Linked DNA regions of Homo sapiens: region 2 is reported to be linked to region 1. Evidence: microRNA targets listed by miRTarBase, many of them from high-throughput screens and not tested one by one. Region 1 holds a microRNA gene; the other region holds the end of a gene's coding sequence.
The links. Region 1 holds the annotated microRNA hsa-miR-589-3p (UCAGAACAAAUGCCGGUUCCCAGA, at 2,930-2,953, opposite strand). A microRNA usually pairs through its seed, bases 2 to 8, with sites in the 3' UTR of a target mRNA and lowers its output. Matches are read on the target gene's strand: a 7mer-m8 pairs with bases 2 to 8, a 7mer-A1 pairs with bases 2 to 7 and ends in A, and an 8mer does both.

Region 2: miRTarBase lists SEMA6D as a target of hsa-miR-589-3p. Seed matches in the 3' UTR shown: 7mer-m8 at 3,711-3,717.

The regions. Positions count from the first base shown.
Region 1 is chr7:5,492,905-5,498,081 of GRCh38, forward strand. MIR589 (microRNA 589) reads right to left here and starts at 3,013; the gene lies at 2,915-3,013. The region is part of intron 3 of FBXL18 (F-box and leucine rich repeat protein 18); the gene reads right to left. RefSeq lists enhancers at 2,157-2,236, 2,307-2,356.
Region 2 is chr15:47,771,106-47,776,105 of GRCh38, reverse strand. It overlaps SEMA6D (semaphorin 6D), which reads right to left. Exons shown (of 19, transcript NM_001358351.3): 19 at 1,878-5,000. The coding sequence ends at 4,321. Among named protein-coding and RNA genes, the nearest start is that of SEMA6D, 56 kb to the right of the region's middle.

The sequences.
Region 1 (5,177 bases):
AAATGCCTGTTGCATGAAGCCACTCAGTTTGTGATCAATTGTCCTGGCAGCCCCAGGATCCTAGCACAGATGCTGAGGGCAGCCACAGCAGAAGGCGCCACAGGCATGGAGATTCTTCCCTGGTAGGTGACACAAAAAGACCAAGTCACGGCGGGCATGGTGGCTCACACTTATAATCCCAGCCCTTCAGGAGGCCAAGGCAGGAGGATCACTTGAGCCCAGGAGTTTGAGAAGAGCCTGGGCGACATAGTGAGAGCCCAGCTCTACAAAAAGTACAAAAATTATCCAGCCATGGTGGCACGCACCTGTACTCCCAGCTACTCGGGAAGCTGAGGTGGGAGGATCGCTTGAGCCCAGGACTTCGAGGCTGCAGTGAGCTAGGATCGTGCCACTGCACTCCAAGCTGGATGACAGAGCAAGACAGTCTCGATCTGTTGCCCAGGCTGGAGTGCAGTGGCGTGATCTCAGCTCATTGCAAGCTCCCGGGTTCACGCCATTCTCCTGCCTCAGCCTCCCGAGTAGCTGGGACTACAGGCGCCTGCCACCGCACCCAGCTAATTTTTTGTATTTTTAGTAGAGATGGGGTTTCACCGTGTTAGCCAGGATGGTCTCAATCTCCTGACCACTTGCTCCACCCGCCTCAGCCTCCCAAAGTGCTGGGATTACAGGCGTGGGCCACTGCACCTGGCCAAAATTTTTTTTTTAAAAGAATAAAGGAAGTGTGGCTCATGAGAGACTGGTTATTTACTTTTGTGTGTGTGTGCGTGCGTGCGTGCGTGCGTGTGTGTGTGTGGAGACAGGGGTCTCACTATGTTGCCCAGGCTGGTCTCCAACTCCTGAGCTCAAGCAATCCTCCTGCCTCAGCCTCCCAAAGTGCTAGGATTATAGGCGTGAGCCACCATGCCTGGTAGTTAATTTTCTTTTAATTGATTTAAGCAGAAATTCTCAGCCAGGTGCGGTGGCTCACGTCTATAATCCCAGCACCTTGGGAGGCTGAGGCAGGCGGATCACCTGAGGTCAGGAGTTCGACACTGGCCAACATGGCAAAACCCTGTCACTACTAAAAATACAAAAATTAGCCAGGCAGGCCGGGCACGGTGGCTCATGCCTGTAATCCCAGCACTTTGGGAGGCCGAAGAGGGCAGATCACCTGAAATCGGGAGTTTGAGACCAGCCTGACCAACATGGAAAAACCCCATCTCTACTAAAAATACAAAATTAGCTGGTCGTGGTGGCACACACCTGTAATCCCAGCTACTCGGGAGGCTGAGGCAGGAAAATCGTTTCTACCTGGGAGGCAGAGGTTGCGGTGAGCCAAGATGGCACCATTGCACTCCAGCCTGGGCAACAAGAGTGAAACTCCATCTCAAAAAAAAAAAAAAAAATTAGCTGGGCGTGGCGGGGCATGCCCATTATCCCAGCTACTGGGGAGGCGAAGGCAGGAGAATTGCTTGGAGGCAGAGGATGCAGTGAGCTGAGATCACACCACTGCACTCCAGCCTAGGTGACAGAGCGAGACTCTGTCTCACACAAAAAAATAAATAAATAAAATTAAATAAATAATAAAATAAAACATCCAAATTGTCTTTATTTTTCTATATTTGTTTTGTTAAGCTATTCAGATTGTTTTTATTTAAAGATAGTAATAAAATGTTTTCATTACGTATATTTTAAATACCACCTCTCCCTAAAAAAATCCTAAAGTAAACAACCCTTTGCAGACCGGAAGGTGGGAAACGGGAAGGGGTAAAAAAGACGGTGCAGGCGCCGCACCTGCTGAGCTGCAAAGTCACCTCTGGATTTCTCTCCAAAGCAAAAGCAGGAGGCTCCAGACAGCAGGAGATGGAAACGGGGCGTTGGGCAAGGACGGTGCCGTCGTGTGGTCACTAGGTGGCGATGCGGCTCCGTGCTACCCGCCCCAGATCGCCCCGAGCCTCTGGGGTTAAAAACCAAGTCTGCAGAGCGTGGAAAAAAAACCTTTTTTCCACGAGATAACCACATCCACATTCTTCCGCCCCGGAGGAAGTCACCTGTCACAGGTGTTCAGGATGTGGCAGGCCCACGGGAGTGACTGGTCAGGCAGCGGGCCTGGCACGTCTAAAGCTTCCTAGGCTCCCACAGCACGCCGCCTGGGGCACGGCACCCAGGACGGTGGCAGAGCTGACCTGACTCGAGTGACCGGCAGCGTCTGCAGGGAGGATGGGGACGAGGAAAAGGCTCCCACTGCGCCGGGCCTCACCTTTGAGTGAGGATCCAGCCTCCCCATTCTGCTCCCTGAGGGGGCACCTGGGTCTCCTGGTGACTCTGTGGGCATGAAAGGTGCTGAGCTCACAGTGCGGGGGCTCCCATCTGGCCACCCACTGCACGGGCCGTGAGAGCAGCACCCAGGCCTCCGAGGTGTCCCTAGGGTGGCTCCGGGGCCTGGCTCTGAAAAGGATGGCCCGCTTCTGCCCAGACGCTGCCCTGGTCACGCTCACAGCAGCCCGGGTGACTCAGGGTGACACGCTCCCCCGCCCTCCACCGCAAGCAGGGCTTAGCTGGTCTAGGGAAAGAAGGTGTCTTTTCTGCCCAATTTGTAATCCCCTTACTACTGAGGTGTGTCCAAGTCCCAGCCAGAGCGACTCCTTCCTGCACCACCCCCTCCCTGCCAGGAGCCCCAGCAAGCACAAAGCTGGGGGTCACGGTGTGGGGGCTGCCAGTGGCAGCAGGTGGCTGGCGTGGGATTCCAAGCTCTGCCACCAAAGAGACTCCGGCCGCCCCAGGATGCGGCCTCGGAGCATCGTGCCAGCCTCCAGGGATCCCAGCGCCGTTTCCTCTGCACAGCTCCTGCCCACGGGCAAGCGAGTGCCACCTGCTCCTTCCACTGCAGCGTCCGGGCTCCCTTGCCGCAGAAGGCAGGAATCCAGAGGAACGGGGCCAGCTGGCAGCGTCTGGGAACCGGCATTTGTTCTGAACAGGCAGTACCCAGCTCAGAGCAGACGTGGTTCTCAGGGGCTGCTGGGCACAGGCTGGAGTTTGTCCACAGAGATGGCATTATGAGCAGGGTCGGTCTCTCAGGCTGGCCCACAAAACCCACAAAACCCACAGAACCCGCAGGCCTCTCCGCGCCTTCTCCATGGCCCTGCTCCTGAGGAAGGCCCTTGGCCACGGGGATTCCGTCCCAGACTCCGGAGGCCATCGGGGACCATGAAATCACGCTGACCTCGGGAGGCCGGAGACAAGCAGCCATGTGACCTAGGCAAGTTCATGCACTCTCTGGGCCTTACTTTCTTCATCCATTAAGTGGGTACAACTGTGTCGACACTCAGAGGTTGTTGAGAATATCAAAGGGGTCAAGACCTGTACACCCATGAAAAGCACCTGGCAGAGGTCACATGAGCCCAAAGGTCCCCTCCACCCGCGGTGGCTGCCGTCACCTCTGCCTCTTGCTTCCGGAACACCCCCTCCCTCCGGCCAGTGCCTCCCTTGCTGACAGCCTCTGCTCGGTCTCCCTTCCACATTCTTCTTCCTCTTCCTGGCCAATCCTTGTCACGTGTGCCCCAGCCCAATCCGTGGGCTCACCTGGATCCATAGGTGGCTAAAGGCCACCTATGAGCTGAGGACGCCAAAGCAACTCTCCCAGGCCAGACCTCAGCCTGGACTCAGGGCTTGGCTTAGGCCCATCAACTAGGAGGCCACACTTAACAGACTCTCCGGACCGGGCACAGTGGCTCACACCTGTGATCCCAGCCCTTTGGGCGGCCCAGGCAAGAGGATCACTTGAGCCCAGGAGTTCAAGACCAGCCCGGGCAACACAGCAAGACCCCGTCTCTACAAAAAATACAAAAAACTAGCCAGGCGGCCGGGCACAGTGGCTTACGCCTGTAATCCCACCACTTTGGGAGGCCGAGGTGGGCGGATCACCTGAGGTCAGGAGTTCGAGACCAGCCTGGCCAACATGGTGAAACCCCGTCTCTACTAAAAATACAAAAAAAAAATTAGCCGAGTATGGTGGTGGGCACCTGTAATCCCAGCTACTCTGGAGGCTGAGACAGGAGAATCGCTTGAATCCAGGAGGCAGAGGTTGCAGTGAGCTGAGATCATGCCATTGTACTCAAGCCTGGGTGACAGAGTGAGACTCTGTCTCAAAAAAAAAAAAAAAAAAAAACTAGCCGGGCATGGTCGCATGTGCCTATAGTCCCAGCTACTCGGGAGGCTGAGGTGGGAGGATCACCTGAGCCAGAGAAGGTCGAGGCTGCAGTGAGCTGTGATCATGCCACTGCACTCCGGTCTGGGAGACAGAATGAGACCATTTTTAAAAAAAAAAAGTGGGAAAGCCCAAATTTTACATGCATTTTGCGTCAAATTTCTAAAGCAGGGAGATTCTGAAAAGTCGCCCGTCTGGTTCTCAAAGCAGTCGCCCGTCCTGGTTCTCCAGGATGCCTGGGTCAGAGCATGAATAACCACCCCGCTCCCCACGCACGGAGCCTCGCAGTGGCTCGAGCTGAGAATCAAAGCGGCCGATCCAGGGCCTGGTGACTCCACCAGACAGGAAATACAGAGGCTTCTAGCAATCTGCTCTGCCATTTGAAAGTCCTGGGTTTGATCCTGCGCTTCTCAACCCAACACTAACAGGTCTGCAGTGGGAGGAGGTCGAGAGGGAGGGTGGCGCCAAGCTGGCTGCATGGCCGGGGGACTCCAGGGTGTGAGCCTCCAGCTCGGCTGCTCCCGAGCAGACCCGGCCACTTCCTGCCATGCCTTCTGCGGGAGAGGGGAGATTTACAAGGGGCGCCCTTATCTCTACTCTGCATGGCTCCAGGGCCAAGGTCAAGCACCGGTGTTTGCGAGAGACTCAGCTCCCCCTGAGCTCCCACAGCCTCATCTGGGAAATGGGAATGATCAAGGCTGCAATCGCAGCAGATTATGGCAGGGAGGATGGGCTCAGTGCATGGCTCTCAGCAAAGGCACAAGGTGAATGCTAACTATTCTGGGGACAATGACACGTGCCCACGTGCCCCTTAGGCTGGAGCATGACTTCATGTACCCGCAACCCACCCCACCAGCTAAGGACTCACAGAGACACCAGCTCACTCATCTAAGCCCTGCCTCCACTTTCTCCCCCACCCAGTCCCTGGTAGTACTGAGGCTCAAGGCCTTCACTACCTTTTGGGTAATTTTTTTTCTTTTTTCTTTTTACT
Region 2 (5,000 bases), not on the chromosome of region 1:
CCAGGGTAACCAAGTGCTTAGTCGATGGCATTTCTGGAACCAGAGCACAGTGCCTTGTCCTGGTTATTGTATTTGTCCCATTACTCTCTGGTTTTATGGGCTCCCTTTGAAAAAAGTCCCAAGTTCCCTTACCCTACTTCTCTCAAATGGGATCTGAGCATTTATCTTGAGGATTCATAGATGTGATTTTAGGGGACTGTAAATGTCCTGGAGAGGAAAGGGAAATGCGCCTTTCAGTCCATAGCATTCATTAAATTATCAAAAATGTCTATGATGGAATAAGGCTAAGAACTTCTATAAGGGAGAAAAGAAAGGTGCATTTTTTAGAAGAGAAAAAAATCGTTGAACTCAGAAAAACTAGTAAACAGGCAGTAGGTATAATAAACACCAATTTAATGGAAACAGGCAATGCAAATGAATGATAATGCAATGCTAAAGAAGCCTAGGAAGAGGCTGCGTGTGGTGGCTTATGCCTGTAATCCCAGCACTTTGGAAGGCTGAGGTAGGTGGACCACCTGAGGTTAGGAGTTCGAGACCAACCTGGCCAACATGGTGAAACCCCTTCTCTACTAAAAATACAAAAATTAGCTGGGCATGGTGGTGAGTGCCTGTGCCTGTAATCCCCGCTACTCAGGAGGCTGAGGCAGGAGAATTGCTTGAACCCGGGATACAGAGGTTGCAGGGAGCCGAGATCGTGCCACTGCACTCCAGCCTGGGCGACAGAGTGAGACAAGCTTGGAGATGCATTTCCCTTGTGTCTTCTTTCATCCATTTGTTCGAAATCTGAGTTACAAATTGACTTCTGCAAGTCAGTAAGATGGGAGACACCTTCCACCCTCTTCTCCAGCACTATAATGGTGTGCACTTACGCAGACTTCCTTCCAATGATAGGGTAGTTTGGAAGGCCAAGGTCAGGTTCTGTGGCTGGTGGCACCACCTGTGGTGCCAGGAGCTGTGAAATGGGGCAAATAGGCCATCCCCTGGTCTTCTTCTCTCACAAAAAGATTCCTTCAAATTTTTCCTCATGTCTCTGGAGTATTGCATGCTATGATAGGAATAAACAAGGACTTCTGATACCACTAAATTGACACTGAAATGCAGCACCCCTAATTAGATGACACTATCAAGGAGAATAAGACTCGAGACAGGAATATGGCCATTCTGCTGTTCAGCAAAGATGCTGCTGAAGCTCCTTGAGAAAACATGACCACATGGGAGCTGCAGATGGGCTTTGGCCAGGAGTAGCAGCTAGAAACAAGAGGGCAGGGATTGCTACAGCCTACCCCTGTTGTCTCTCTCAGAAGTGGCCTGCCACTGTCAACATCCACGAGAAGCAATGACAGCAGCCACCAACTCATTACGTGCTAAGAGCAAGCCATGGAATCATATTGTTACCTCTCATTTCAATATTTAGGGAAGAGAGCTCCTAATTTATTCTATTTGTTTAAAACAAGGGAACTGAGAAACTCCTTATACCAAATAGCAAGAAATGTTCACGGGAACCCTGTTTGCCAGTTATAATTTTGAACTATTACGTGAAAAATTTCACGCAGGAAAACAAATCATGAATTTTAAAAATGTCTGTTGAACTAGATAGATCTATGGACAATGTGAACCACTACTGTTTGCCTAAAGCATATGACTGTTGACGTAGTACAGTTCAACTGGTTTTCTGAACAGTTTCTCATTTTTTTCAGGGGCTCTGACCTCCAGTGTCAGCCTTCCAAGGAGAGAATGGTAGTGTAATCATGACTGGAGAGCAACTGTTCCAGATAAGAATATTTTGGCAGATTTTAAAAGCAACTATTACTGGTGTTGATTGACTTAAAAATATTTTAAAAATATAACATGTTATAAACCTCTTCAATATCAAGAGGCAGGATATAATGATTTGTATATTTTATTTTGACTTTACATGCGGTGTTAAAAACCCAAAGTACATATTATTTACACATCCACAATACAAGTTTACAAGGTATCTATTCATGTTAAAGTACTCTATAAAACAGTATAGAGACACTTCACTTGAGGGTTACTTTTTATGCCGTACCATTAAAAAAGATACAATCTGCGTTTACCTTTGCACAAATGGATAAAGCATTTAAAAATTAAATTAACAGGATAGAGACTAGATTTAATGTTAGAAATTTCAACATAAATACTGATTGAACTCACATTACAAACTACAAGGAAGCACAATGTTACAAAATGTTATCTGGGGTCACATAGAGTTACTGTTCTGTTTTACACACGCTGGGATTAATATTGGTAAGGTGAATTCAAACACGTTTGTTGTTGGTGGACTGAGTAGTGTTTATCATTGGTTGGTTTAATTTATTATTAATCTGTAATATTTTAGTTGCAAAGCTGAAGTGTTTCAAGAACAGAAATTTTAGCTTTAGCGCTTCCAGAGATCACTGGAAATCACGTTCTTTATAAAACAATGTTCTTTAAAAAAAAGAATAACTGTATCAGTATTTCACATTCTGTATAAAAATGATCTGGTCTTCTGCAACATGTCCTCCCCCAAGTAATAGGTACCAACAGTATTGTCAAAAGAAATCCAGTTGAACTCATTTGCCTGATTACAGCAGGAGCATACCTCTGCCTTGGTACTTTCTAGATTTGGTTCACTAAACAAGTGTGTGGTGTGCAGCATATTAACTGAAACAGTCAGCAGGGTTGCGCATCATCAGCCGTAAGTGGTTTCTGCCAAACTACGTATAAATGACGCTCTATAGTTTCTGCAGGTGTCACATTACCCAGGAAACCTCATTTGAGTTCACATTATCACTGTTTCATCCTTAGGAAAGCAGGAGTGGAATGTTTATCACGGCAAAGAATGTAATGCTGCTATGAGGTCGGATTATGTAACAAATAATTGTCCTAGGTTGTTTCTGTGATTTTTTGAAAAGAGTCTTTTTAGGTGCTGGTTGAAAAACATTTACAACTGGCACTCAGTAAATAATGTGCTATACTGAAAACACTTGACAGATTTTAGTACTTCTATCATTCTCATGAATAAGGCACAAAATGCACAGATTCAGGTAAACTCACATGTGGTATTTACAGTATATTGTCATTACCTGCATGACTTAGGAGAAAATTCTCACATAACACAACACAGACAACATGATTGCACCACTGTTAGGTTTTTACAGACTGTTTCTGTTAAGCCAATTACAATTCCTTTCATATGTCTTTCTTTTGTCTTCTATTTTTGTTTGTTTGTTTGTTTTTTGTTTCTTACCTTGGGGGGTAGGAGGAGTTAAAGGAGGAGAAATTTTACTATTGGGGGGGGGGAAACGAACACAATCAAAATAAAACCTTATTAGTGTGTCCAAGGTTAAATAGAGTGACTCAGGCTTTGATTCACAGTGGACAGGAAAATTTTACTACTGAATACTGGAAAATAAATCAAGGATACCTCTTAATATCTTGATCTCCTTAAGCTGGCAAGACTGGAATACAAGTTTTAATGAATAGCAGCACAAAATCACTTGCAACTCTTACATTCTGGCATTGGGTACCACATAAGTAAAGTTCATCATTTTGATGGTCAAAGGAGCCTCGATTCTATTCCTCTTTCAAAGCTGAACCCAATGGACTCCTGTGGGAAATAGTATTGTCTCTCGTTCGGTCATGCTTAATGTAAACAACTCCATAGCACAAAAAGATGCAATGGGCACCTAAACAAATCCTAGTGGGTACAGAACACACACACACACACACACACACACACACACACGCACACACACAACAAGTTTGTTGGTGGCATGAAAAAGATGCCACACATGAAAAAAAAATGCTACAGCTTGGGTCAAAGATTGAATTTTTAGCAAACTGCTTGGTAATCTACAAGTTCATTTCTTTGAGATATTACCATCTTTTTTTTGACATTTGTGCAAGAGGCAAGGTGAATGCATACATATTAAAATGTTCACATTTAATGGGAAGACCACACATAATGGCAGTCTACATTGAACCCATTTTCAAGTATTTGTTCACAGATTCTTCTGAGTACTGTTATCAGCTCTTTATACTGGTAAGGTAGCCCCTGTGAGCTACACATCTCTTTAGCTTCAAACAAAAGAAATGGAATGACCAGCACCTTCCTTTGTTTTCAGGCAAGTACACAGAAGCCTTGCTGCAGTAGCTACATGTGGCAAGTTCTGATGTTGCCAAAGTTAGAAAGAGTTTCTTTGGCCACTTGGTTCTCTTAAAATACAAGCGAGTCTCTTGTTTTAAGGTACCCTTACAACATCATCCTCTCAACAACACGGACAGGATAAAGCCACATGGGAATAGCACACTTGAGGCCTAGTATGTGTATTTGTTCAGTGGTCTGACAGATGGGGTTTGAGGAACAAAGGAAGGCTTTGGTGGCACGTCAGGTTTTAAGGACGGCGTCCTCTTTAGTCCCGTCCTAGGAAGAGTGCCATTACTGGTGTAGCTGCTCTGTCTGGAGAGGGAAGGCTGCAGATGAACACTCACTGGTGTTCCCTGAATATAGTCCACCTTCGCCCCAGTGGGGGTGGGCATATATCCTCCACGGTTCATACTAGGCTGTCTGGATAACAAAACACCATTTGGTGAGTTTAAGTTTTTAGGCATAGCAGATATAGAGTGCCTCTGGGAGGAATTTTTGTGATAACCTCTTTGTCTTTCCAGAGAAGTCATTGGGACTCCAGGAGTGGTGGGGACATCCACTCGCTTGGTTGGGCTATTTCTGGGGAGAGTTGAAGGAGGGGAGTATAGCGATGCCTCCCGGTTAGGGACTTTAGGTGGGACCTCAGACATCGATCCCATGGGATCCAGCATTAAGTTCTGGTGTGCCATCTGGATGTCTCCCATGATGGCTTTGGGGTTACTATTTGGGTCATTCAGATGCTTCAGGAGATCATTGAGGGTATTTCTGGAATCAACAGAACGCCGGTGATCTCTCTTACTGGATGACTTTGTGAGAGGGTGATCAATGTTTTGAAGCTTCTTTTCAGCTT